Homo sapiens: one gene and its partners. The protein of the gene in region 6 interacts with the protein of the main gene of each other region in a pairwise test. Each region holds a gene or a part of one and is shown on either strand. Other genes may lie near its edges.

The links.
Region 1: the proteins of FEZ1 (region 6) and HTATSF1 interact in a two-hybrid assay, tested with the Homo sapiens proteins (one large-scale study listed by BioGRID and IntAct).
Region 2: the proteins of FEZ1 (region 6) and RAB3GAP1 interact in a two-hybrid assay, tested with the Homo sapiens proteins (one study listed by BioGRID).
Region 3: the proteins of FEZ1 (region 6) and PPP4R3B interact in a two-hybrid assay, tested with the Homo sapiens proteins (one large-scale study listed by BioGRID and IntAct).
Region 4: the proteins of FEZ1 (region 6) and DNAAF5 interact in a two-hybrid assay, tested with the Homo sapiens proteins (one large-scale study listed by BioGRID and IntAct).
Region 5: the proteins of FEZ1 (region 6) and CSTF2 interact in a two-hybrid assay, tested with the Homo sapiens proteins (one large-scale study listed by BioGRID and IntAct).
Region 7: the proteins of FEZ1 (region 6) and TESC interact in a two-hybrid assay, tested with the Homo sapiens proteins (one large-scale study listed by IntAct).

Annotation. Positions count from the first base shown.
Region 1 is NC_000023.11:136,510,219-136,512,846, reverse strand, and holds the end of HTATSF1 (17S U2 SnRNP complex component HTATSF1), read right to left. Parts: coding exon 2,628-2,628; intron 2,040-2,627; coding exon 834-2,039; 3' UTR 501-833; downstream 1-500. UniProt on the Homo sapiens protein: Component of the 17S U2 SnRNP complex of the spliceosome, a large ribonucleoprotein complex that removes introns from transcribed pre-mRNAs.
Region 2 is NC_000002.12:135,132,292-135,135,791, reverse strand, and holds part of RAB3GAP1 (rab3 GTPase-activating protein catalytic subunit), read right to left. Parts: intron 2,898-3,500; coding exon 2,808-2,897; intron 1,932-2,807; coding exon 1,759-1,931; intron 528-1,758; coding exon 473-527; intron 229-472; coding exon 1-228. UniProt on the Homo sapiens protein: Catalytic subunit of the Rab3 GTPase-activating (Rab3GAP) complex composed of RAB3GAP1 and RAB3GAP2, which has GTPase-activating protein (GAP) activity towards various Rab3 subfamily members (RAB3A, RAB3B, RAB3C and RAB3D), RAB5A and RAB43, and guanine nucleotide exchange factor (GEF) activity towards RAB18.
Region 3 is NC_000002.12:55,593,623-55,597,122, forward strand, and holds part of PPP4R3B (serine/threonine-protein phosphatase 4 regulatory subunit 3B), read right to left. Parts: intron 1-3,500. UniProt on the Homo sapiens protein: Regulatory subunit of serine/threonine-protein phosphatase 4 (PP4). May regulate the activity of PPP4C at centrosomal microtubule organizing centers.
Region 4 is NC_000007.14:754,199-757,698, reverse strand, and holds part of DNAAF5 (dynein axonemal assembly factor 5), read right to left. Parts: intron 3,111-3,500; coding exon 2,878-3,110; intron 918-2,877; coding exon 705-917; intron 1-704. UniProt on the Homo sapiens protein: Cytoplasmic protein involved in the delivery of the dynein machinery to the motile cilium.
Region 5 is NC_000023.11:100,837,391-100,839,705, reverse strand, and holds part of CSTF2 (cleavage stimulation factor subunit 2), read right to left. Parts: coding exon 2,257-2,315; intron 1,468-2,256; coding exon 1,345-1,467; 3' UTR 1,342-1,344; intron 1-1,341. UniProt on the Homo sapiens protein: One of the multiple factors required for polyadenylation and 3'-end cleavage of mammalian pre-mRNAs. This subunit is directly involved in the binding to pre-mRNAs.
Region 6 is NC_000011.10:125,454,766-125,458,265, reverse strand, and holds part of FEZ1 (fasciculation and elongation protein zeta-1), read left to right. Parts: intron 1-2,159; coding exon 2,160-2,431; intron 2,432-3,500. UniProt on the Homo sapiens protein: May be involved in axonal outgrowth as component of the network of molecules that regulate cellular morphology and axon guidance machinery.
Region 7 is NC_000012.12:117,092,917-117,096,416, forward strand, and holds part of TESC (calcineurin B homologous protein 3), read right to left. Parts: intron 773-3,500; exon of another isoform or gene 758-772; coding exon of another isoform or gene 736-757; intron 1-735. UniProt on the Homo sapiens protein: Functions as an integral cofactor in cell pH regulation by controlling plasma membrane-type Na(+)/H(+) exchange activity. Promotes the maturation, transport, cell surface stability and exchange activity of SLC9A1/NHE1 at the plasma membrane.

The DNA of each region.
Region 1 (2,628 bases), on a different chromosome or scaffold from region 6:
CAACTGAAGCATGCATGAAGTTCTTCAACTTCAGGGAATCCATGAACCTCCCCAAACAGTACACAAGTTGTGTAGTGTAGTGTGTACATTTTTTTCTGGGAAGAGGTCCTCTAATTTGAATTAACTTCTAAAGGGGCCCAGAGACGCTAACAGTACAAGGTAGAATTCTAATCTGTTTCTTTAGATTTTTAATAATAATGGGAGCTGTAGACTGCAGGAAGTTCACTTTTGCACATCTGAGAGTCAATTTTAATGGAAAGAGGGTAGAAAACAAACAAGAGTTAATTTGCAAGGACTGGGCAGAAAAAAAAAATCCAGAGGGTTGTTTTCTGAGTTTAGGAACATGTTCTGGTTTATAGAGAGGAAATGGAGACATACGTGCTAATACCAGCGGGAAGCAAGGAGACTCCAAAGAGATTCTTCAAGTCCTCAGAAAAGCCAACCTTCAGTATAAATAAAGCAATATCAAGAATTTAAAATGCAATTTAACTCAAGTCCAATTTTCAGTTTCTGCATATTATCAACTCATTTTTATTGATGAATATCACAAACTTCAATCAATACTCTTAAAAATATTATTCTGCATGCATTTAACAAATCTGACAAAAGAACAAGTATCCAGTTTACTTGCATTGTAACTATGACATTTTAACTAAACAATCAATTAACATATATTTAAAACCATTAGGTACAGGTAACAATGAAACACTTCAATGCTTTAATCTGATGGCATCCTACCACTATGCACATGTTCATGTAACACTACTAGTAATTACCCTGAAGCACAGGCAAATGTAGATGGAGGACTCTCCCTAAAAAGCAAGTTTAAGGGATTAAATATCATCGTCATCATCATCGCTACTGAGAATAAAGCTGCTGCCAGTGGATAGGGGCCCTTCTTCAACACTCCCAAAACCACCCAAAGTCCCCCTCTCATCAGAATCGTCAAACAACTTCTCACTGGAATCTTCCTCCTCATCAAACAACTTCTCATTGGAATCATCATCTTCGAACAACTTTTCGTCAGCATCTTCAACTTCCTTTCCATCTGCATCTTCATCTTCCTTGTCATCTGACTCTTCAAACAGCTTTTCATCTGCATCACCTTCTTCCGCCTTTTTATCAGCAGCTTCAAGCCCCTTTTCATCTGCATATTCTTCATCCTCTTTCTCATCAGACTCATCATCAAATACTTTTTCATATGTATCCTCCTCTTCTTCCTTTTCATCTGAATCTTCGTCAAACTCTCTCTCAGAGCCTTCCTCATCTAACACTTTTTCAGAGCCGTCATCTTCAAATTCGGAGTTTTCAGAGTCATTTTCTTCTAACTCTTTGTCAAGAACATTTTCATGAAGCTCCTTTTCAGAACCTTCCTCGTCCAAATCTTTCTCGAGACCATTTTCTTCAAATTCTCTTTCGGAGCCATCTTCAGACTGTTTTTCAGAGCAGTCTTCATCAGACTCTTTCTCTGAGTCATCTTCTTCGGACTCTTTTGTGGGGCCAACCTCCTCTTCAGACTCCTTGTTGAGGTCATCTTCAGATTCCTTTGCAAGGCCATTCTCTTCACAATCATTTTTGAGTGTCTTCTTTTTAGACTCTTTTTTAGGACTATCCTCTTCAGATCCTCTTACGGGATTGCCTTCTTCAGACTCTTTTTGGGAGCAGCTGCCTTCAAACCCTCTTTTGGGGCAGCCCTCTTCAGATTCTTTTTCAGGGCAGCCTTCTTCAGCCTCTTTTTCGGGGCTACTTTCCTTAGCATTGTTTTCAGAAGCACCTTCTTCAAATTCTCCCCCATCTTCTGTCTTTTCAAACTTCTTCTCATCTATAGGTTCTTCAAACGCCATTCCAGTTGCAGTTTCTTGAGCATTCATTTTAGATGTGCTGGGGTGCTCTGAAAAATGCCTTGCTCTAGAAGGCCCTGCCCTTTCGGAAGCAGAGACAGAATCTGAACGCCTAAGGCCTCTGTTGGCCTCAGGAGCATTGAGGAAAGCCTCCCATCCTCTCAGCCTTTCCTCCCTTTCTCTTGAGGTTTCCTCCACCTGTGGATAAATGGAGACTGCCATTAAAATAAGTTTCAGGCAAAAGGTTACTTCTCTGAACATATCTAATATTGATGAAACAACCTTAATTTTATAAAGCATCTCTTATTAGGAAATGAAAGCAATTCCATCTTCAGTTTTCAAAACTTTACATCTTGATTTACTAGAGTTGACCTTAAATAAGACCACTTAAATAAAGGCCAAATATCACAGTACTGCAGAAATGTCTCATCTCTTAAAAAGTTAATATTTGAGCTCTGTCTATACTTTACAGCATACAAAGGAAGAGTAACATTTGGTTGAATGTGTTCTTTTCTTATCACTATTCTGAACAAGCCTCAAACTTTCAGACTTAGAAACTGAAAGACTCAAACATTTCTCTATCTTCTGAATGCAAAATATTATTTAAAAGCAGCACTGTAAATAATTAAGAGGAAGAGTAAAAAATTAAAATATATAAGTAAATAAAAATAAAAGAAGCATTGTTACATTAAATAGGTTAAACCAAACCCAAAATTTAGATCTGAAGGATCAGTATTTGTTGGTAATGAAACAATGTGTGTGCCCTTGACAAGCAGCAAAATTTACC
Region 2 (3,500 bases), on a different chromosome or scaffold from region 6:
TTCTTCAGTATCACTTAGGCATTCAAAAAATTCTTCTTCGCTGTCACTCCAGGAATCCCAAGATTTTCCTACCTCTCCCTTTTCCTTATCTGTTTCTTTTAGATTATCTGGCACCAACTGGTCTCCTGCTTTTCCAGCATCCCCTGGATATATATTAGTGACATCTGAAGCACTTGTCTTTTTCCCCTCATCACGTGCCTTCTTTCTTTCAATACAACAATTTAACATCTTAAGAAAAGAGAAATAACATTTATAGTTGAATTAGTTACAGAAAAATAAAAATCTACCTACTGCTTGAATATTTAATTTTCACTCTCCACTTCTCAGGACCTTGTGAATTGCAGTGACTACTGACTATAGGCAACCTACAGCAGCACCATGAGAACAGCATGTAACCCATTATTACATTTAGTATTAGAATAATCTGATTAAATCAAGACCACATTTATCCATGTCATTGAGAAATCTTTACCTGTAGTTTCTGATGCAGTAAACAACACCTCAGATCTGGGGGTCCACTTGCTAATCTATCAAATAAAGTAAGGAGAAAAGAAAGCTTAGTTTTAGTAAAATTGCTTCAGATATGATTATTTTCTATACTACCATAATTTTTAGCTATATTGATAAGAAATCAAAACTAGATTTCCACAGGTAAGGTAAGTGAATTCCAGAGGGGGAGCACATAGAATTAAAAGATGAAAATTTATTTTATACTCCTTGTCCACAAATCACCAATAGCAAATATAATAGATATTTCAAAACATAACAGCAAATTAGTGATAGTTTTCAGGCTAACAAAAACTCAAAATGAGAAAAAGCCCCTGAACCCACTCCAGGAAGTACTAGCATACAGTATTTCACACCATACAAAATAAATCAGTTTGTGTATTCAGTACTAAATTCTTACAGTGGATTCTCACTATAAAAACCAAGATCTCCACCTGTATTTCAATAGGACCTTGGACTGTCTCTAGTTCTAGGTTCCTCTAGACTACTAGGTTCCCAGCAATCAGCCAGAGGCACTCCCTCATATTCAACATGCTTCTGGGTCTGTAAAATGTTCCAGAGCGGACTGTCTAAAACCAAGAGAGAATCCAGCTAAGCAGAGATTGGCAAATGATATAAATGTTTTTGGATCAGTAATCATTTTATATTGCTCAAAATCATGATTCTCCTATCATAGCATGGGTAGATGAGCACTAAACTATGCAATATCAACCTATGTGCTAATGAAAATGTTCTGTTTGATTAAGTAAAATGTCAATTACAAAAAACAGGTTTATTACAAAAGACTTTGAAAATGCATAAAAGTATAAAGAACAAAATAAAAGTATAATTTCACACTGGGAAAAACTGATAGCATTTCACAGTATTTATAATATTTTTCCTGTACAAATATAGCAACATAATTAAAAGTACTTTGTATATGCATTAAAATATTCTACTTTATTAGAAACAATATGAACATCTGTTATTAAAGATTATTGGGGGAAAAACTGTAATCAATCTAATTTTCTATTGTAGAGATACAGTATAATTTATTTAACTATTCTTTTATGTTTGATATTTAGGTTTTGCCTTTTTTTCTATTATATTAATAAATTTGCTGCAGTGAACACCTCTGAACATAAATCATGTCTAAGCTTCTTGCCACTTTCTTAGGGCAGACTTCCTAGAAGGGGGAAAAAATAGGTCAAAAGTCAAATGTCTGCTAACAAACAAAATCGTATCCAAACAATTGAAAATTGAAATTATTACCCTGGAATCAGAAAGTTGTTTTCCCATCGGAAACGCATTTCAAGAACAAATTCCTGCCAGAGGTGTGCCACTCCTTTCAACCCTCCATGGTAAAAATTGATCATACAGAGACACAAAGCCAGTTTGTATGTTAAACTGTCAGATGGTGCAGACTTGAACTGATTGTAGAGATTCTAAATTTAACAAAATAGAAACAAAGCAAACTTGTTACCAAAATATTTTACACATATAACTGAAAAGGTCGTAGGGAGAGATTTTAATTGTAAAATTAACCTATCCCACCTAAACTAGGCATTATCAAATGTCTAATACACTACTGCATAAACTATTCTTAGGAAGTCCCACATTTTCAAGATTTCTACTAAGATTAAAAAAGATAAAGCTATAGTTTAATGAAGCTAAAGTTACAGCTTTCAATTTCTTCTGTGGAATATTTAGGAAGTATTCCAAATTTCATGTGTTGTTTTAAAAATCTTTTAATTACAAAAATGAGCACGTCTGAAAAAACAAAAATCATAACTATCTAAACTGAAAATGTAAAAAGCCTTTGCTTTTTTCTCTCACCTCATCAAATCTACTTCTCAACAATAACTACTGTAAAGGTTGATATATATCTACACTTGTCATTTAAATTCTTCAACTTCTTAATTTTTCAAAGACTAGACAAAGAGACCATGAAAATTTTACCTAATTTTACACATTTTACTTCATTAAAGAGTTGTCCATTCACTAACTAGTTTTAAAATATCAAAAAGAATCTGCTGAGAAACACAAATTTAATGATTTCACCAAAACTCTACAATGAGGGAAATCCTACAGCTGTGTAGAGTATATTTGTGCTATTTTTTCATTGTTTCCAGAAAAATTCTTGCTACCCAAAATATGTATCTGTGCTAGTTATCTAAGTGGAAACCACGATCTGCCATCCAAAATTCCCAAGGTGATTTTTAAAATAAAAATATAGTAAGCTATTAAACTAGAAATATATAGAACCTCTAGAAATTCAGTGCATTTAAAACATTTTAACATTGAACTCCACATCAACTTACATAGTCTTCACTCTCTGATGGAGGATTATTATTATCTGTTGAAGTAGTTCCATCTAATGGTTTCTCAGAAACAGCATCAGGGAATAAGAACTTGAAGGAAAGGAAAAAAATAATCACATTTTAGACCACATTTCCTATTTTGTTGATTTTTATAACTCATATAGACATTATTTAACTTTTTAATGGTTTTGCTGCTCTAACAATAGAAATGTTCCAGTTGTATTGGCCAGTTTGTTCTACACTCTCAAATTTTTTCTATTTTTCTTTGAAAATATACAAGGTTTCAGTGACTAGCCAATTTTAGAAATTAGAATTTTTTTCTTAAAAGTAATCACTTGATTCTGTAAGCTGAAAGGTGCAAAAGCAAAATCTCATCACTGTGACTTCATGCTCACCCAAGGCCATTACATTTTTTTAGTGTTACTACTATCTAAAAAACAAAACCACAAAAGACAATTTAAAAACACTCATGTACTCATGAGGATCTGAAGAGTTACATCATCCACAGGCTTTCATATATAGACTACTAAGAGATGATATTCAAGACCCACAGCTTTATTTTATGATACCCCTGGAAAGTAGGAAGCAGTCTAAACCTATAATAACCAATGTACCTTTTCCATGTGGTTTCTGTTTATATGTACATGTACGAGTGGTCAAAAAAAAATCCAGTGTACATGACAACTGAGCTAC
Region 3 (3,500 bases), on a different chromosome or scaffold from region 6:
GGGCCAGGTGTGGTGGTTCACATCTGTAATCCCAACACTTTGGAAGGCTGGGCACTAGGATTGCTTGAGGCCAGGTAAGAACAGTTTAGGCAACATAGCAAAACCCCACCTCTACAAAAAATAAAATAAAATAGAGACCACTGGCCACAATCTTATTTCTTTCCTTTTCACACATAGTTGAAAACACAATTCATACCCAAAGGAAAAAAAAGCATTATATTAAAAAGACACCTGCACTTGTATATTGATCGCAGCACTATTCATGATAGCAAAGTCATGGAACCCACCTAAGTGTCTACCAACAGATGATCAGACAAAGAAAATGGGGTGTATATATACACTGTGGAATACAAATGAAATGTTAAAAAATAATGAAATCATGTCTTTTGTAGCAACATGAATGGAGCTGGAGGCCATTATCCTAAGTGAACTCAGAGGCAGAAAATCATATATCGCATGTTCTCACTTACAAGTGGGTACACAAGGACATTAAGATGGAAATAACAGACACTGGGAACTCCAAAAAGGGGTAGGATGGGAGAGGACTGAAGGTTTAAAAATTATCTACTGGGCACTGTGTTCAATATCACGGTGATGGGTACACTAGAAGCCCAATCTCCACCATTACTCATGCAATACCCATGTAACAAATAAGCCTATGTGCCCTCTGAATCTAAAATAAAAAAAAAAAAAAAAAAATTCAACATCATTGCTGGCACATAAGAGATAATTAAGTAGTAAATGTTATGTAAATAACAGACAGTTCACAGAATCTGGCTATTTCATGAAATGCATCTCATGAAGCAGAAATGAGTAAATCTTTTAGAAAAATAAAAAGCTGCACTTGATTTACGTAATTATAGCCTTCACAAATAAACCTATTATAAAATACATAAAATGACAAAGTTTTACAAATATTTATAGTTCATATAATTTATTTTCTGAATATAAAAAAGTATTTACGATTTACTAGTATGAATTTGGAAACCCTTCTGAAGACAAAAACAGTCATTTGAAAGCTACATATGAGCTTCTGTTCCTGGTCCTCTTTTTATCAACTACAGACTGTGACTCTGTCCAATCTCCTAAGATTATTAAATGTTTTTCTGTCAACAAGTGAAATAGCACCCTGAATTGTATACTACAGTTTAAAAATACACAGGTCCTATATATTATAAAAAGAACCTGATATGTACATCTAACCTCCCCCACACTCATTATTGGTGAATAACAAAAAATTGGTAGGTGAATAAATGACCTGAAAGAAAAGTAAATCCTATGCAAAAAATTAAAGTAAACAATAATAGGTGACTACTGGTGGGAAACGTCGCAAAATGAAGTCGATTAGCTAGGCACTAAGTCAGAGATAGAATCTCAATTATTTGTATCAGGACCCTTTTAAACTTTTTTTTTTTTTTTTTTCAGACAGTCTCGCTCTGTCACCCTGGCTGGAGTACAGTGGCACAATCTCAGCTCACTGCAACCTCCGCCTCTCGGTTCAAGCAATTCTCCCACTTCAGCTTCCTGAGTAGCTGGGATTACAGGCACGTGCCACTGTGCCTGGCTAATTTTTGTATTTTTAGTAGAGATGGAGTTTCGCCATGTTGGTCAGGCTGGTCTCAAACTCCTGACCACAAGTGATCCTCCTGGCCTTGGCCTCCCAAAGTGCTGGGATTACAGGCATGAGCCACCACACCCAGCCTAAACTCTTAAGAATTATGCAGAGGCTGGGTACAGTGGCTCATATCTATAATCTCAGCACTTTGGGAGGGTGAGGAGCATCACTTGAGGCCAGGAGTTTGAGACCAGCCTGGGCAACACAGTGAGATCCTGTCTCTATATAAAAAATAAAATAAATTTTTAAAAATTACAATTAAAACCAAGACTCGTGAAAATATTTATGAATTCATTTTAAAATAAGTCATTTTATGTTTATGTAAATATTTTTTAAGAGAAACAGCTATATGATCCAAAATTTAAACTTTTATAAAAAAGAGTAGCCCCTTTTACATTTTTGCAAATCTCAATACCTGGCTTAACAAATGACAACCAGATACTCATTTATCTTTTCTGGCATTCAGTGTGTTGCAATATGTTCTTTAAGCAAAAGTACATGAAAAAAAAAAAAAAAACACAGCCTCACACTGACATCAAACTAGAAAAAGGAAAACCTCATAAATGCCTGTAAGAGGGGCTCAGGGACTTCCAGAGGTCCACAAACCACACTCTGAGATCCACAATACTAAGTATATAGTAGCTGCTCAATAAACTTAGTGAATGATATGGAAATAACAAAAGCAGTTATGCAGAAAGCTGAGTATAGGCTACTGTTACAAGTAAGACAAGTACTTAAAAAGCATGCTTACTATACTGTTAGGGTGTAAAGGATTAACATGATAAATATAGTATAAAACTCCTATTTCACAACTCAAGGAGACAGAATAAAATCACCTTCATATAGCAAATAGCCACATACTCGTATACACCCCAATAATAACAGTATCTCTCAAAATGGAAGAAAACATACTTTTAACCCTTTACCCATTGAGAAAAAAAAAGTACAGCTTGCTGCAAGGACTCATTTAATTTTACATAAACACGCTCTTTGAGGCCGAAGCAAATCTGACTTTCAAGGTGAAAATAAAATATAAAAACTGTTCTTGGAGTTATTTCTAAATAGAACTAACATCAGAATTGTTTGAATCATCAGATTCGTCTATTTCGAAAAAAAAAATCAGATTCAACAAACGAATCCTCGGGCAACAACTGTTCGAGAATGACAATACCATGTGCAGGACTGCTATGTTTTCTACGATTTGACATTTTCAGTGATTAACAATTACTATAGTTTGTAAATGAAAATATCACTATTAAAACCAGAATGCTATAAATAGAATGATGTCTTCTGTTTCCAAAGTCAATATGCCACAGCAATGCAAAAATAATAATAAAAGCTAGGTATTTTGTGGCAAAGTTATCTCAAGGTAAACACTGCAGCCAAGCACTACTGGCGAGTATTCACAGGACAGACAGGAAAAGGGTTAAATATAGCTGCATTGGCCAGGTGCAGTGGCTCACGCCTGTAATCCCAGCACTTTGGGAGGCCAAGGCGGGCGGATCACCTGAGGTCAGGAGTTTGAGACCAGCCTGGCCAACATGGTGAAACCCTGTTTCTACTAAAAATACAAAAAATTAGTCGAGTGTGGTGGCGTGTGCCTGTAATCCCAGCTACTGGGGAGGCTGAGGCAGGAGAATCGCTTGAACCCAGAAGGTGGAGGTTGCAATGAGCCGAAATCACACCATTGCACTCCAGCTTGGGCAACAAGAGTGAAACTCCGTCTCAAAATAATAATAATAAAAAATAGCTGCATCATCGATATATATAATAGGCAAATTCATAAAGAGTAGAATAGTGGTTACTAAGAGCTGGAAGGAGGGAATATGGGGAGTTACTGTTCAATGGGTTCAGAGTTTCTGTTTGGGATGATGAAAAAGTTCTG
Region 4 (3,500 bases), on a different chromosome or scaffold from region 6:
AGCAAAGCCATCACCTCTTCTTCCATGGAATACAACTATGGATTATTCCAAACAATTGAGCCCAACTACCCAGGCTGTTCCAGCTTCTGAGCTCAAGGATTTGCTGCTCAATTTAAAATTAAACAAATGTCTCTGGCAAATCCTCAGCTGGGCTGTGAGAAGCACAGATCGGAACGCCAGGCAGGGCTGATGGGGAACAGGCTGTCAGTGCCCCCTGAGGACGTGCGATCTGTGCAGGTACCCTGGGGACTGGATGGGATGGTGGACGTGCGACCACGCTCCTCAGGGGTGGGATGACGTGGACCCCACATCTACCCCCAGCAGCATGGGCCAGAGGGTCCCGGCCATGGACGCCTCCTGAGTCATCAAACACGTGAACTGTGGTGTGTGGCCAAGAAAGGGGCAGCAACGAATGTAAACGTGAGCGGCCGCCTGCAGCTGGGGCTGGGGCTGGGGCTGGAGCTCTGCACAGCCCAGGACGAGGCCCCGGAACAAGGGCTATCAGCGAGGGCACTCCGGTTACTGCAGGTGTTTCCGATGGCCCGGCCTGGCGGCACGGGGCGGACCCACAGACACGTCGCTGGGTGCTTCCGACAGCCCAGCCTGGCGGCACAGGGCAACCCACAGACATGTCATTACGATGGCTGACGGCCGGGCAGGGGAGGCTCCTCCTCTCCACTCCCGCATCTCCCAAGTGCTCTTACGTTTTCAGATGCCTGGCAGATGTGGGCCTGTGCCAGCTCTGTGGCGATGGCTGCCAGGTGCGGCTGGAGGGCTTCTCGGGGGCAACCCCGCATGGCGGAGGCCAGCACCAGGAGGCCGGAGGCAGAGGGCGTCTTCTTCAGCGTCGATAAGATCAGCTTCAGAAACACCTCAGGGCTGACAAACGTCCCGACGAGCTCTGCGGATCTGGTACACTGCGAGAAAGAAACATGAGAAAACTCAGAGCCAAACCCGAGGGTCTCAGCCGGGCTCCTGCTCTCGGCGCCGTGGCCTCCCAGACACAGCCGTGCACCAGACAGAGCCCCGTGTTAGGCAGAGTGAGTCCTTGGCACATGCTCAGAGCCCTCAGGAAAGGTACAAGGGTCCGGGTGTGGTCTCAGAACGTCCCTGAGGCCAGCGAGCCGGACACGCCTCCCAGGCAGTGAAGTCTGGCCCAAAGGATGCTGTGTCCCAGCTGTGGGGTTCACCACACACCCCTCATCGGACACCAGTGACCCAACCTTCCCATCACTAAGCTGATCAATACACACCAGCCCCTCTGTACCGTGGAAGCCCACAGTGGATCACACACTCACCAGCCCCTCTGCACCGTGGGATTCCACAGTGGACACCACACACCAGCCCCTCTGCACCGTGGGATTCCACAGCGGATCACACACACACCAGCCCCTCTGCACTGTGGGATTCCACAGCGGATCACACACACACCAGCCCCTCTGCACCATGGGATTCCACAGTGGACACCACACACCAGCCCCTCTGCACCATGGGATTCCACAGCGGATCACACACACACCAGCCCCTCTGCACCGTGGGATTCCACAGCGGATCACACACACACCAGCCCCTCTGCACCATGGGATTCCACAGTGGATCACACACACACCAGCCCCTCTGCACCGTGGGATTCCACAGCGGATCACACATACACCAGCCCCTCTGCACCGTGGGATTTCACACCGGATCACACACACCAGCCCCTCTGCACTGTGGGATTCCACAGTGGATCACACACACACCAGCCCCTCTGCACCGTGGGATTCCACAGCGGATCCCACACACGTCTCTCGTCCTCTCAGCCTCACCCCCGTGTCTCTTGCTCTCCTGTAGGTTCCACAGAGAACTACAGACAATTTTAAATTCACGGTAGTTTTTGAAAAGCAGAAACATGACATGTAAATAACATGGAACCTGGAACATTTACTTTAAATCAGTCACAATGATTTAGATTTTTTTGTTTTATCTGAGACAGCGTCTCATTCCGTCGCCCAGGCTGGAGAGTAGTGGCGCAATCATAGCTCACTGAGGCCTCAAACTCCCGGGCTCAAGCGATCCTCCCACCTCAGCCTCCCGGGAGCTGGAACCACAGGTGCACGCCACTACGCTGGGCTAGTAACAGTGACCTGGACCACTAGAAGTAAAAGCTGCTGGCCAGGCTACCTTGCAATGGAATTTAAGGTTCAAGATGAGGATATTTTCAACTGAAATCTCAAGTCAAAGCTTTAGTTGTTCTCCTGAGCACTAGGAAGCATCCTTGTGAGGTGGGTGTGAAGTCCTCATGGTGGTGACTGTCAGCGCAGGGCGTGGCCCGGCCTAGTGAGGAGGAGAGGCCTGAGCATGGGACTCCCTCGTGCGTACCCAGTGGTGACGAGGCGATAACCAGCAGCCGAGTGTGGACAGGGAGTGAGAAAGAGGACTGCACCAGGGACACCACTCGCAGGACACCCGAAGCTGTGCCATCATCCCCCGTCTGGGTGCTCCCACAGCCCCTGCGAGGCCTGGAAGGGCCCTCAGGACAGTCCAGATGTCAATGCTGAACGCTGGGCATCTCGGTCCTGTGTCAGCAGCCCGGGCCCTGTCTGTCTGGTGCACGGCACGTCTACACAACACGTCTACACAACATGCACCTGGCACTGCACCCCCGAGTGTGCTTGAAAATGAGCATGAAGGGTTCACCCTCAACACGCTGTTACCTACGGGCACAGAAAGGAGATCAGTTGTTCCCAGGGGCTGGGTGTGGGGAGGGCCTGCGGCCCGGGGGTGAGGGGAACGCTGTCTTGGCTACAGTACAGCCTCGGGCCCCGCACACCACAGAGGCGGGATCTTAAGCTCGAGTTACAGCTCCGCGACCACGACTGGAATACGGCCACTTACACTTTGGACCACGGCTGCCTCCTCGTCGGTGCAGGCCTGGAACAGGGTCCGGAGGACGACCTCCAGGTGCTGCGTGGCGTGGTCCTCGGCATGCAGCAGCAGCACTGGGAGCAGCTGTGCCGACTTCACTCGGGTCCCCACCACCCAGTCGGTGATGTCGTGGCACAGGGCAGGGAGGATCTTGGAGAGGTTCCTGAAGACGAGCTCCCGGCAGCCCAGCACAGGGCGGCGCTCTGGAACGAAAAAGGGAAAGAAGAATGAGAAATTCACAAGCAAAACCTCAACAACTCAAGTTACCGCACATCACATTTAAGGGACACCTGTGAGTTTCAACCTCACCATTTCAAAACAAGTCTTGGGGTGGACGCAAAGCTGACAAATGCCCCGTCGTTCAGAACATTCACAGAGGCGGTGCACGGCTGCAGTCCTAGCCCTGTGGAGGCCAAGGCAGGTGGATCACTAGAGCCCAGGAAGTCAAGACCAGCCTGGGCAACATGGCAAAGACCCCATCTCTATAAAAAACAGGAAGATTAGCCAGGTGCCGTGGTGCATGCCTGTGGTCCCAGCTACGCAGGAGTCTGAGGTGGGAGGATTGCGCCACAGCACTCCAGCCTGGGTGACAG
Region 5 (2,315 bases), on a different chromosome or scaffold from region 6:
AATATGTGGGGTTTGTGGAATAAAACGTTAAGGTACCAAAAGTCTACTGAGCCTTCTATCTATGATAGCTTCTCATTAATTCATTTAAGGTCTAAATACATATATGATGCATAGTCGCAGTTTAAATGTTTAAAGACATCACAAGTATGGATTAAAATGATATATTTTGTAAGAGTGGTAATTATTAATAGTTAAATGAGTTCACTATTATATAACATAAGAATAGGAATTATAATATGGATGGGGTAAAAAGTAGAAATTTAAATTGTGCTGTCCTACCTGATAGTGGGGCAACATGAATTTTAAACTGTTTTTAGAAAAAAGAACTGTTTATAAAATACAAAATGCTGGGGAAATTTTTTTTAAAAAAGAAACACTGATACATGTATGTGTAATCAAGTTGTCACATGATTATTTATGAAGCAGGTTACCTGGATCCTTTTTTTTTTTTTTTTTTGACACAGAGTCTCACTCTGTGACCCAGGCTAGAGTGCAGTGGCATAATCATGGCTTACTGCAGCCCTGACCTCCTGGACTCAACCAGTCCTCCCACCTCGGCCTCACAAGTAGCTGGAACTATAGGCGCATCTCACCATGCCTGGCTAATTTTTTAAAAAATTTTTGTAAAGATGGGGTCTCACTATGTTGCTTAGGCTGGTCTTGAACTCCTGGTCTCAAGTAATCCTTCCACCTCAGCCTGCCAAAGCTGAGATTACAGGGCTCAGCCACTGTGCTTGGCCCCTGGATTCTTTCTGCCTAAATGATGAGCAAGAAAAATAAGGGTAGCAGGGTACAGCGATCTCCAAAATATATAGAAACTGATGGTGATGACGGACATTTACTACCTTAAATTATGTGCTACTATAGTTCAACATCAAAATATTCCCTATAAAATAAATACAAGAAACAAAATATTTACACATTTTATTGAAATGCTTTGTATTTTTCCATTTTGACAGGACAGTTTGGAATAAAATAATACAATTGATTGTAGAAGGATACACACCAAACTATATTTAGAGGTTTTGTCTGGGGAATGAGATTGAGGAAACAGGGCTTTTTACCTTTCACCTTCTACATTTCTGTATATGATTACTTTTGTTAAACTGATCATACATTACCTTTGTCATTAGGAAAGATTATAAGCAATTCAACAACTGAACAAACATTGTATAGCCTTACTCTATCCCTACAGGAGCTGACCTACTGAAGGGTAAAGAAGAGTCTAGCTGAGTGGATTGAGGGCCGCTGAGAGAACAATCTTGTTGGTTAAGGTTAAAAGTATATACCCAGAATAGACAAGGAGCTAGTCCTACTCAGATGGGGATTAAGTTTGCTCACCTATCAAGGTGCTCCAGTGGATTTCTGTATTTGTTCCTTTAAAATCAGGATACTCTGCCTTTGCTCAGGAGGCAACATGGCAATCTGGTCTGCAGTCAGTTGTAGAACCTGCATAATCAAAGCAGCCTGTGCAGAGGAAAAAAAAAAGGTAGTGAGTTTTAATGATGGCAGCTAAAAAATACAAAACAAAACAAAAAACCCACCACCAGCTTCTGTCCAAAAAGCTACTGTAGTGGGATATGAAGCAAAATGGAAAAAGGAAGAACATTTCACACAGAAAAAAACCAACAGCCCCCCTCCAAAAAAAATAAAAAATAAAAAAAAACTGGTGAGAAAAGGTACAATGAAAAGAACAAGTATAAATTAAAATACCTAAGATTAGACGATTCAAAACAGACAACTTCATGAACTCAAAGTTCCTGGAGACTAAGATGGTATCTGTGAGCCCTGGAAATCCTTCAAGTTTTAATCCTGTTTTGAAAGTCTCTCTTTTTCACAAATTTTAGCCTTTCCATCAGACATAAGCTCCCCACAATGGTCAAATATAAAAACAGAAAGATATAATCATGGGGAATCTACTATTGTTTTTAGGGATAAAGTAGAAAGGGAAGGAAAAAGGGTGTGGATTTTCAGGTCAATCTGGCCTGAACAAGAAAAACCTGCTATTGGCAGATGAGTGTGAAATATAAAATAAGCTGCCATTTACATCCACTTAAGAACTTCACATCCATTAGGAACTTCAGGACCAGACTCACAAATTTTCAGGTAACAAGATCATAAAAGAGTTCTAAGTTAGAATAAACATCACCTCCAAAGGGACTTTGAAGACCCAGGATCGTCACATGGTAACTGTGAAAAGAGGAATCAAAAAGGCTAGAATTGTGCATAAGGAGGCAGTCAGACAGTGTTGCTTACCTTCTCATGATCCTGTGGAGTGACTTGGTTCTGCCCGGGACTAAAGCCGCCAGGCTGGC
Region 6 (3,500 bases):
ATGGGAACTTAGAAACAGGGGAGGGAGAAGGTGGGTTGGTCAGGGTTCAAAGGTCAACTGCGGGTTAGAAGTGGTGAAAGCAGAGGCAGAATCTGGAGGCCTGCATCCTGCAAGTCAGACTTTGGCTTTGAATAGCAGCGGCAGGAGGTGGCCGGCAGAGAGTCTGCTCGGTGCTGAACTGGACTTGGCTGCCTCGCTGCATTCCCGACTGCCCTTGTCAGGCCCTTCCCAGCCACACAAAGGTCCCAAAGATAGACGCGTTCAGCAAAAGACTTGTGAAAACAGCTGAAATGCAGAGTGAAATGGCAAAAAAACAGAAGGGGGAGAGGGCAGCTCCAAAGAGCAGAATAAGGGGAAAGCCCAACCAAGTCAGCAAATATCCGGGCAAAGCAGAAACAAAGAGGAAGAGGGAAATGGATTCTGAGGTGAAAGTGAAGGACACCATTAGACGCTGTACATTTGAAAATAACTAAAAGAGTATAATTGGATTGTTTGTGACATAAAGGAAAAATGCCTTAGGGAGTGGATACCTCATTCTCCATGATGTGATTATTATGCATTGCATGTCTGCATCCAAACATCTCATGTGCTCCATAAACACATACACCCCCTATGTACCCACAAAAATTAAAAATTAAAAACCAGTCAATCAATTAATTCTTCCTCCCCTGCCGCAAAAAGATACCATTAGATGGAGACACATTTTAAAAGATGTTTCCCAAGTATATTTTATTTTTTCAAATTATATATATGTGTATATATATACATATATACACATATATGTGTATATATACATATATATGTGTATATATACATATATATATATATATATATATTTTTTTTTTTTTTTTTTTTTTTTTTTAAAGTAGAAACAGTTTCACCATGTTGGCCAGGCTGGTCTCGAACTCCTGGCCTCAGGTGACCCACCCACCTCAGCCTCTCAAAGTGCTGGGATTACAGGTGTGAGCCACTGCACCTGGCCTAAATTTTTTTTTAAGTGTTTAAAAGAATTTTTAATCAGAAAATGCTTAAAGGGTATAAAGTTTTTATTTATTTATTTATTTATTTATTTTTATTTTAAGATAGAGTTTTGCTCTTGTTGTTGCCCAGGCTAGAGTACAGTGGTGTGATCTCTGCTCACTGCAACCTCCGCCTCTCAGGTTCAAGCGGTTCTCCTGCCTCACTCTGCCGAATAGCTGGAATTATAGTCAGGCACCACCATGCCTGGCTAATTTTGTATTTTAAGTAGAGGCAGGGTTTCACTATGCTGGCCAGGCTGTTTTCGAACTCCTGACCTCAGGTGATCCGCACATCGCAGCCTTCCAATATGCTGGGATTACAGGCATGAGCCACTGCTCCTGGCCTAAAGTGTATAAAGTTTTAAAGCATGATTTAGACCTGTATACAAGTATAATCTCAACTATGAAAATATATAACATGTAAACAGAAAAATTTGGAATAAAATATCCAAATCTATTTTAAATGAAAGAAGTCTTAGGAGACTTCTTAAAGTTATATATTTCCCATGATCTCAGCTTCCCTTTTCTTTCCTTTGAAAGTAGCTGACTGCCGTATGCTAACCCGCTAGGCTTTATTTTTTCATGCATAGTCACCAATCTTCCAGGTTTCACATATTTTTGAATACATGCACTGCGACACAGGACCAGAGATGTAAAGAAGGGCTCAGATGGTCGGCTTTTTTGTTGTTGTTGCCGTATGCTATATCTTGATCAGTTCTTGGGAATAAGCACCAACGTCTCTATTGCTCTTCAGTATGGATGACAAAAACCTCCCTCCCATCACTTTTCCATCCCCAATTCTTGACCCATTTCACACAAGGAATCTTATGGACACAGATAGAAAATAGAAGGAACAAACCATCCCCATTTTTGAGAATAGAGTCCACAGACTTCCTCGTGGGCTGTTTCTTCTTCCTCCTTTGTTTCCTGAGAGGGGTGTTCTCTTCTGCAGTCAGTACACAGGCCCCCGCCTTCCTGGCGTGCTCGTAAATTGTGAAGGTCTTTCTTGGATCTTTAAGGAGTTGGAAGGGATCTCCTCTGAGGGGCAGTCCCATCTTGATTGGTGGTGGCCCCAGGAGCCTCCCCAGCGGGCTCTGGTGTGGATGCAGGTGTTATGCGGGAGACGGTCTTCCCCTGCAGGGCTGAGGCACATGTCTGGGTCTGAGCTGACCGAGCTGCTGGACCAGGTGGAGGGTGCCATCCGTGACTTCTCGGAGGAGCTGGTGCAGCAGCTGGCCCGCCGGGACGAGCTGGAGTTTGAGAAGGAAGTGAAGAACTCCTTTATCACGGTGCTTATTGAGGTTCAGAACAAGCAGAAGGAGCAGCGAGAACTGATGAAAAAGAGGCGGAAAGAGAAAGGGCTGAGCCTGCAGAGCAGCCGGATAGAGAAGGGAAACCAGATGCCTCTCAAGGTAGGTGAACAACCAGGTGGAAGACTGGGTGCCTCCAACCTCCAACCCTGCCCGTTTCAGTGCCCTACCAACCCTGCAGGGGACTCATCAACGTTTACCGAGCAGTGGTGGTGAGCAGCACACTGTGACAGACAGGGGGTCAGAAAGGGAGAAGATATCACCTATCTCCTCCACTCCCCCAAAGGGCTCACAGTCTAACCCAGGAAGACAGTGTGTACATTAGGAAATAATTGAATTTGGCTTGTGTTCTCTGTAGGCAAGACCTTAAAGAAAGTGGAGTGAGGGTATTTCGTGTTGGGAGTCTTGAGATGGGCCTCAGAATTCTGGGTCCAAATCCCTCCTTGTGTCCCAGGTTCCAGTCCTGACTGGTCTCTTTAGGGCGTGCTAAGGTGTTTCAGTGATTGAAAATGATCAGGTGCCTTATTATTATTGTTATTATTTTTTGAGACAGAGTCTCACTCTTTTGCCCAGGCTGGAGTGCAATGGTACCATCTCGGCTCACTGCAACCTCCGCCTCCTGGGCTCAAGCAATTCTCCTGTCTCAGCCTCCCTAGTAGCTGGGATTACAGGTTCATGCCACCACTCCTGGATTATTTTTGTATTTTTAGTAGAGATGGGGTTTCACCATGTTGGCCAGGCTGGTCTCAAACTCCTGATCTCAGGTGATTTGCCCATCTTGGCCTCCCAAAGTGTTGGGATTACGGGCATGAGCCACCGTGCCTGGCCCCAGATGCCTTATTGTTCTATTGTTCTATTTTTGGGTTTAACCCAAACCCCTGGTTCTCATGGTTCATTTTTTTTTTCTTTTTTTTTTTTTTGGTGAGATGGAGTCTCACTCTGTTGCCCAGGCTGGAGTGCAGTGGTGCGATCTCGGTTCACTGCAATCTCTGCTTCCCGGGTTCAAGCGATTCTCCTGTCTCAACCTCCTGAGTCGCCGGGATTACAGGTTCACACCACCACGCCTGGCTAATTTTTGTATTTTTAGTAGAGACGGAGTTTCACCATGTTGGTCAGGCTGGTCTCAAACTCCTCACCTCGTGATCTCCCCGCCTCGGCCTCCCAAAGTGCT
Region 7 (3,500 bases), on a different chromosome or scaffold from region 6:
CCTCCCCAGAGGCACTCAGACAATTCCACATCCTATTTCATGGGGTTCATGGACTCCCTGAAGATGCCAGGGGAAAAGCCACAACCTAGCCCAGAGGAAGAGAAAAGGCACGGGGGACTGGCTGGTTGGCTGTTCAGCTTACCAAGCTTTGGCGGACGACAGAACAGTGTGGAGCTGGCTGGTCCACCCTGGCCCATCAGACCCTTCCTCCCGCTATGCTACAGTTGTTGGGGTGCTCCCCTGTCCCCCTGGAACCCCTGAGCTTCTGGAGGGCAGGGACCGCATCTGGTCCACCCTGGTAGCAGAATATGGCAATTGGTGAATGAGCCGAGGCCACCGTCTGAGGCCACTTAAAGACTTTAGAACCAAGAAGTATTACCCAGGGGCGAGAACGCAGTGGAGAAACCAGCGCCACCCCCACCAGCCACGCTTGGCTACGCCAGTCCTCCCTGCCATCTCTAGCTCCTTCTCCAAATGAGATTAGACCAGGAATGGAATCCGACTCTCTTTTTTTCTTTGGAGACAGTCTCGCACTGTCACCCAAGCTGGAGTGCAGTGGCACCAACTCCTGGGCTCAGGCGAACCCCCTGCCTTGGCCTCCCAAAGTGCTGGGATTACAAGCATGAGCCACCGCACCAGCCTGCGACTCTACTTCTCATTATGATGCCTGTGGCCTTGGGCAGGCACCTCCTCTCTTGAGCCTCAATGTCTGCATCTGTAAAATGGGAAACCAACCGTGTTCCTGGGAGGATTCCATCAGCTACTGCGGATACGCTGCCTGGCTCAGCTGAACGTGTGGCAGATGCCACGCGCCCGAGAAACATTAGCTCTTACCATCATGAGGTCTGAACTCTAGGTCTGGAGATTTTTTTTTTTTTTTTCCTTTTCCTTCTGGCAGCTTCTTGGCATCAACATAGACATGCCTGAAGAGCTGTTTTGGAGCCTGAAGGAAAAAACAGACCCTCCACCTTTCCCAGAATCCTCTGTCTTATTATTTCCTTTCCAACTCCAGGAGCAGACACGGATGGGGGGGACAGGAAGTGGGGCCAGCTCAAGGTGGTGAAGGACAACTGACTCAGGTGAATAATTCCCAAGAAGCCCTTCTCTCCGTCAGGTCCCACTTTGTACCTCGGTCCACACACCAGACACCACTTGGCTGCTGTCACCACGGGTGCGTGGGGAAGGTGAGCTCAATCACACCCCCGGGACGCCTTCGCTCGGGCTTTTCATATGAATCTTAACAATCTAGATGTGAGCCTTCTTGGCTCAGAAAAGATTCCTGGGAATACTCGTTTCCGGTTTAAATCAATCAATGAGACTCTAACAGGCAGGGAGAAGGAAGGTGGGCACGCAGACCTGATGATGCCCTGTGTGGCAAGCTGCTGCTCAGGCATATTTTTGGTGGGGCTGGGGAGATGCTGGGAGGGTTGGCAGCCGAGGACAGCTGGTGAGGGTGGCACTGGGTTTTCCAGTGGCTGCCTGTTCCTGAACAATACACCTTGAGTTTTAAAGTCCCCAGGGACTGTGCCCCTTTAACGTGAGCCTCTTATGCTCTCACTGAACCACCAAGTGCATACAAAGGTGAACAAGACACGTTCTTTCTGCTCTAGGGAGCTCCAAGTTTCGAAGGGGTGGCAGGTGACAGAGTTGACAAGTATAACATGGTGTGATGCCTGCTATTGCGGGCTCCAGGAGCGCTGAGGATGGGTGTTTAACCCTTAAAGGTCGGATGGAGAGATGGCTTTCTGGATGGGAGCAGCAGGTAAGCCAACCCCTGAACAATAATGAGCATTCGTTTCATAAAGAGACAGGGTTAACGCTGTGCGCGGTGGCTCACACCTGTAATCCCAGCACTTTGGGAGGCAGAGGCAGGCGGATCACTTAAGGTCAGGAGTTTCAGACCAGCCTGGCCGACATGGTGAAACCCTGTCTCTACTAAAAATACAAAAATTAGCCGAGCATGGTGGCGGGCACCTGTAATCCCAGCTACTCACGAGGCTGAGGCAGGAGAATTGCTTGAACCCAGGAGGCAGAGGTTTCAGTGAGCTGAGATCGCGCCACTGCACTCCAGCTTGGGCAACAAGAGTGAAAATTCATCTCAAAAAAAAAAAAAAAGAGAGAGAGACAAGGTTAAGAGGAAAGGTTTGAGTTTGTTTTTTCTTGTTTTTGTTTTTTGTGAGATGGAGTTCACTCTGTCGCCCAGGCTGGAGTACAGTGGCATGCTCTCAGCTCACCGCAACCTCCGCCACCCAGGTTCAAGCGATTCTCCGACCTCAGCCTCCCGAGTAGCTGGGATTACAGGCGTCTGCCACCGCGCACAGCTAATTTTTGTAGTTTTAGTAGAGACAGGGTTTCACTATCTTGGCCAGGCTGGTCTTGAACTCCTGACCTCATGATCTACCTGCCTTGGCCTCCCAAAGTGCTGGGATTATAGGCGTGAGCCACCACGCCCGGCCTAGACCTTACCCTGGGTGGAGACAGAGAAAGGCTCCCGTACGTAAACACCTGATTGTACACATCAAATGAAAACAGTGCTCCAGGCAGAGGAACAGCTTTTGTGCAAAGGCCTGAAGGTGAGAAAAAATACGGGAGTCTTTTCCTATCCCTTCTTGGTTCCTAGAAATTCAAGTGGCAGCTACACACAGTGAAAGCATGCTGGCAGTAAGAAAGCAGTCTTGGGGCCAGGCATGGTGGCTCATGCCTGTAACTCCAGCGCTTTCAAGAGGCTGAAGTGGGAGGATCACTTTGAGGCCAGGAATTTGAGACTAGTCTGATCAACATGGCAAGACCCCTGTCTCTACAGAAAAATTTAAAATTAGCTGGTGTGGTGGCGCACACCTGCAGTCATAGCTACTGGGAAGGCTGAGGTGGGAGGATCGCTGGAGCCCAGGAGTTCGAGGTTGCAGTGAGCTTGATCATGCCCCTTGCACTCCAGCCTGGGTGAGAGAGCAAGACCCTGCCTCAAAAACTAAAAATTAAAAAAAACTGTAAAAAAAGAAAGTAGGCTTGGGGATCCCATGATCTCCAACTCCTCCACTTAGCAGCTGTGGGACTGCAGGCAAGCTGGTTTACCTCTCTAAGCCTCAGTTTCCTCACCTGTAAAATGGCCCTAACACTGCCTTCCTGGGGGATCATTACTATAAAGAGTGTTATGCAGAGAGCACCAGCGTGGAGCCTGATGCTCAGCAGGTGCTTGGGGAATTATGTTCATTATCACCAGCCTCAGCCTGACCTTCTGGTCCTTTCTGGATGGTGTTCTCAGAAAGGGACCAAGCTGATTCCTCCCCAGAAAGTCAGGGGTCATCTTGGTCCTCAGGGAGGCGGGGGAGTCAGCAGCCCTGTGGGCTCAGTCTGTCCTCTGGCCACCTTACCCTGAGGCTTTTCTCCCTTTTTCTCAGGGAAGATTCCCAAGGGAATGGCCTTGGAGGAAGGGCCCTGCCTGACCCACTGGGTCTCTGGGAGCTGACGTTCCCATGCCAAGCCGATCGTCTCGCACGTAA